2 separate regions of the Homo sapiens genome follow, and region 2 is linked to region 1. A link means that fine-mapping ties the variant in region 1 to the expression of a gene that starts in the linked region. Tissue or cell type: sigmoid colon. Region 1 holds a variant in brackets; the other region holds the start of a gene. All regions are shown on one strand. Distances are from middle to middle.

Evidence for each region. PIP is the estimated chance that this variant, and not a neighbour inherited with it, causes the effect. A credible set is the group of variants that fine-mapping cannot tell apart.
Region 2: it holds the start of TMEM35A, and the variant in region 1 is the best candidate, but not a certain one, in a credible set for the expression of TMEM35A in sigmoid colon (GTEx, PIP 0.61).

Annotation. Positions count from the first base shown.
Region 1 is chrX:101,147,766-101,150,265 of GRCh38, reverse strand. CENPI (centromere protein I) reads right to left here. Exons shown (of 22, transcript NM_001386188.2): 19 at 2,455-2,500; 20 at 2,105-2,323. Among named protein-coding and RNA genes, the nearest start is that of CENPI, 51 kb to the right of the region's middle. The variant C/T (reference allele first, on the strand shown) is at 1,020.
Region 2 is chrX:101,076,965-101,079,980 of GRCh38, reverse strand. It overlaps TMEM35A (transmembrane protein 35A), which reads right to left and starts at 1,102. Exons shown (of 2, transcript NM_021637.3): 1 at 859-1,102. The coding sequence starts at 978.

The DNA.
Region 1 (2,500 bases):
TGCAGGGGGAAAAAGACCTGCAAACATTTAAAATTTCATCTAGTAGCCTCATATTAGTAGTAACATTAATATTATTAATTTGACACAGGTTATTGTATATTGTATGATAAATCAAGTTATTATGAAGGTAAGAAAAGAGAAAAAGACAAGAAATATCAGAAAATCACTATAATGTCTCTGAAATTCTTCTACGTAGTTAAAAAATATAATTCTTATTCAAATATTCTAATCAATCAATATGGTTTCAGAGGCTTATGTATTATTTTCCTCAGCATCTAGTCCTTGACTACATTTCAAAACCTCATCTCCTATCATGTTATAGTCTAGCCCAGTGGCTCTCAACTCTTGTTGTATATCAGAACTATTTAAAAGGTGGGTCCTGAATGTCACCCTAGAGTTATTAAATCGGAGTCTCAGCATGGGAGCAGCCAAGGATGTACACTTTGAAAAAGCACCACTGGCCGGGCGCGGTGGCTCATGCCTATAATCTCAGCACTTTGGGAGGCCGAGGCAGGCAGATCACCTGAGGTCAGGAGTTCAAGACCACCCTGGCCAACATGGCAAAACCCTGTCTCTACTAAAAATATAAAAATTAGCCAGGCGTGGTGGTGGGCACTTGTAATCCCAGCTATTCGGGAGGCTGAGGCAGGAGAATTGCTTGATCTTGGGAGGCAGAGGTTGCAGTGAGCCAAGATCGCACCACTGCACTCTAGCCTGGGCGACAGAGCGAGACTCTATCTCAAAAAAAAAAAAAAAAAGAAGAAGCACCACTGACAATTCTGCTGCTCAGCCAGTGTAGAATCACTGCTCTAGCCCTACAATTCTGCCTCATGTTCCTCAAACATGACAGGCTCTAACACAGAGTTCAGCCAACCACGGCCCAAAGCCCAAACTCTAGCTCAACACCTGTTTTGTAAATAAATTTTTTACTGGAATACAACTATAGCCATCTGTTTATGCTTTGTCTACAGCTGCTTTCATGCTACAATGATAAAGTTGAGTACTCTTGACACAGACCA[C/T]GTGGCCTGTAAAATCTAAAATATTTACAATCTGGCCCTCTACAAGAAAAGTCTGCTGACTTCTGTTCTATCTTTGCTCTGCATCTTTGTACTTTTCCTCAAACTCTGCTCCTATCTTGACAAGCTCATGTTCGTGCTTCAAAATTCCAATCAGCATCATTTCTGCAAATCCTGAACTTAGCGCCCCTTTATATTTTTTCATCATCCTCTATACTTTCCCCTATTACATCACTTATTATTGTTTTTTCTAAGATGTCTGTTTAATGACTGCCTCCCTGACTAGATGTTAAGCTCTCTGAGGACAACACTCAGAGTGTCTTATTCACTGTAGTGCCTGGTTCATTGTATACATATATTAAAATTTATTCAATGAATATCTCCCCCACCCTGCACACTTTTTTTTCATTTTGTTAGATTTCTCAATGTTCCCGTCTGTTAAGGGAATCCTGAGTCCAAATTCTTTCAGGGTATTTGTAATTCCACCCTGTTGTCTCATCCATGCATTTCAGATACCACCATTTGAGTTCTTCTCCATGTCACACACACATAATGTTGAAAGTGACAGGGCTGAGAATGAAGTCCTGAAAGGACACACACAAACATAAACCCTCCTCCACCTGCCTGCATATTGATATCAATCCATTAAATCAGCAGTCTTTGACTAAGACTCTAATTGTACTATTAACTAACCTACATATTCTATCTTGTCTAGAAGGATTTTATGAGAGCTTCCACATCTATGAAGCGTTTCCTTACATGGCACCACCTCTACCCAGGCAGGACTGGACTAATCACTCCCCCATCTTTCTTACAACTGAACCTTTTCTCATTTTGCCACACTGTATTATAGTAATTTGTTTACAAGTCTGTCTCTGTTACAAGCTCAAGCTCTCTTAGAGGACAGAAACTTACTTAAATTAACTGGAATCCCTGAGCCTAGCACAATGCCCAAAATTTAGTTGTTACTTAAAAAAAATTACTAAACACACGTCTTACAATTCAGACACATTAAATTTATGGCACTTCCTATTTCTGCCACCACAGTATTAAGATACAAAATCTAAAAATTCTTTAAATACCCTTACCTGTAGCAAAAAGGAAACAGCGTAACTCAAGAAAGAAGGATGATGGACTACATTTAAACTGTTTTTATATTCAGCCACTCCAGTTTTTTCTAGGATTTCAGGGTCAATATATATTCCTTTCCCAAAGGGTTTGGACGTCCACAGGCAACCAACCATTGATGTCAAATAGTGATTAAATTCTTGATAAGTCTTGCTGCTGAAATTGAACTCTGATTTTGTCTAATGGGAAAGAAATAAAAAATTGTCACTATCACCTATTCTCCCTTTCCTTCTTACTCCCATCAGGTCATATATATCTAGACTTAATTTTTAAACAACAGTGATTTAACACAGAGCTTTCTCATTCATACCTTTTGTACCAACTCATTTTTCTTTGCGGCAGTCAAATTTTTACGA
Region 2 (3,016 bases), 71 kb after region 1:
TCATCACGCCCAACTGGGGAAAGCAGCCCAGCCCCCAGGTTGCAGAGGAGATGTTTTGGCCAGTCACCTTCCGTGATTGATTCCAACTCTGCAGAGGGGAAAACCTGCAGAGGGCCTGGCTCTGGTCATCCACAGAAGGCAAGGTGGGGATTACGGACTGTTTGCGGGAGAGAAAAAGCAGACTTTGCAGATTTTGTAGATTACCCCACACACAAAACAAAATAAAACAAAACATCTAGCTCTCCCTTGAGAGAAGGGGAAGAAACAAGAGCTTAGTGACCTTTATTTGGGCCAAGAATGCTTTGTCTCAAGGATCCAGATACATACCCAGGTGGCTGGAGGAATACTATCAGCTGTCTGCCTGGGATGAGGAATACCAGTCAGCCCCTAAAAATTGCTTGTTTTAGTAGCCCATTTTTCCCAGCTCTTTTCCTCTTTCCCTTTTGTTCTGCTCTAAAATAAATAAACTCTCCGCTTGCTAAACTCTTAGCTCACAGGGAGGGAATCAGACTTGTATACTGGTTGCCCGGACTTTGGGTGTGTGCTGGAAGGAGGGAAGGGCTCCTGCCAATGACAGGTGCTACGCAGGTCTCAGCCTTCTGGTTTACTTGGGATGGGGGGTATTCGCTGCGCAACCCCTCCCCCAACTGGCATTCAGTGGCTCCAGAACAGCATAGCCCACAAAAGAAATCGCTCTTGCCCAGCTGCTCCTTCCGAGCTGCAAAGTTGTTGAGAACGGAGGGTCCAGGTGGGGATAGGGGCTAAGGGGGTGGGACCAGAAACTGAGAAGGAAAAAAGGGGAGAGGTCCTCGCAATCCCATGGGAGTGCGCTCCTCATCACCCGTTTGCTTCACTTACCATCTCACTGTAGGCATCCTTGCTGAGCCTGGGGGTCAGCTTGATAGTCCCCATGAAAACAAAGAAGAGTCCCAGGGCCACTGAGAGGGCCACAATAGTTACGGTTCTGGGGGATGCCATGGGGTCGCCAAGGCAGGTCCCAACTAATCCTTCTGATTTGCGCACCCGCTCTGTCCAAGGTGCAGGCAGTTAGCACAGGGAGAGCTGGGGGGACGCTGCGGAGGCAGCAGGCAGCTAGAATGACAAAGGGAGAGGAGGGAGCTCGAGAGAAAAATTGAGAGATCGAGATTCAACCACTCTCACTACAACAAACGCTGGGTCCTAATGCCCTACGTGTGCTCACAGGCCAAAAGGACAGTCTCGAAGTTAAATGAAGCCCTAAAGGAAAGACGGAAACTTCAAATCTTAAATGGGGAGAAGGGAGGTTATGTATGAGTTCAGTCACCAAGTGACCCCAGGAATGAGGAATTAGGGAAGACAGGCTTTGCTGCCACCTTCCCACCGGGCTCACTTTTCATCTCCCCCTCCCACTTATCATCCTTCAGTTATTCACTCCCTTTTTCCATCTCTTCCTTTGTGTCCCCCTTTCCTTTTCCTAAATCAAAATATTAGCCCTCAGAGAGTTGTTTCTGAAGTTCGTAACACTCAAGGATAAAACTGCAAATTTGTCAGCCTTCAATGCTGCCAAAGAAGGCTTCCTCTTTCTCTTGCTCAGAAATCTTTAATGACTCTCATAGCCAGTGGTTAACTCCAGTTTTAAATTTGGAATTCAAGGCCCTCCACATTTTGACCCCTGTCTCTCTTTGGAGATTTAGTTTTCAATGGCTCCCACTGCCACACGCCACCACTCATCTATCTACTCACGGCCTCACACAACCTACGCCTTACCACCTCCTCTACCTTTAACTCCCTATCTTTTGACCCCGCCCCCCACCATCACTCTTCATTAGCATTAAACCTTTTCTTTAATGTCACCTCCTCTATAAAGCCTTTCCTGATCCATTGTCAGTTAGATATGATTTCTCCCTCCTCCAATTTTCTATAACAATAACCAATAATTGTCAACTGTTTACTAGATGCTAGACGCTGCCCTCTACTTGTATTAACTAATTTAATCTTTACAGCAACACTATGGACTAGGTATGAGTCCCCATGCTATGAATGGGCACATTGAGGGGCTGGGAAGGTAGGTAACTTGCCCAGGAGTATACAGCTAGTAAGTGGAGAGCCAGGCCTCAAACCTAGGCAGTCATTTCTAGGGCCCAGGCTCTTAACAATTGCTCTGCTGCCTCTCCTGTAATATTTTTCACTATTAGTGTGGTACTTAAAGTTGTTTAGCACTGTAAATGCTCACGCACACACACACAGAGTTTTGTTTTGTTTAGAGACAAAGTCTCACTCAAGTGATCCTCCATCTCAGCCTCCGGAGTAGCTGGGATCACAGGCACATGCCGCCATGCCTGGCTAATTTTTTTATTTTTTGTGGAGTCAGAGCCTTGTGATGTTGTCCAGGCTGATTTCTAACTCCTGGATTCAAGGGATCCTTCCGCCTCGGCCTCCCAGAGTGTTGCGATTACAGGCATGAGCCACGGAGCCCAGCCCTACACGATTTTTTTTTTTTTTGAGACCCTGCAGAGGGTCTCCCTCTGCAACCTCAACCTCGTGGGCTCAAGTGAGAGGCTCTCTCTTGTAGCTGGGACTACAAGTCTCTCAAGTAGCTGGGACTACAGGCACGTGTCACCACACCCGGGTAATTTATTTTTTATTTTCTGTAGACATGGGGCTACCTTATGTCAACCAGGCTGGTCTTGAACTCCTGGGCTCCAGCGATCCTCCTGCCTTGGCCTGCCAAAGCATTGGGATTACAGGCATGAGCCACCATGCTCAGCCCTAAACAATCATTTTTAATGATTGTATAAAACTTTAGCATCACTTGAATGTACTATAGTTCTCATTCATTTTGCATCCTATTGCTAGATATTGATGTTGTTTCCATGGTTTTTACTTTTACAAATAAAAATGTGATGCATGGCCAGGCGTGGTGGCTCACGCCTATAATCTCAGCAATTTGGGAGGCCGAGGCAGGCAGATCACCTGAAGTCAGGAGTTCAAGACCAGCCTGACCAGCATGGTGAAACTGTAACCTCCCAAGGGGTTC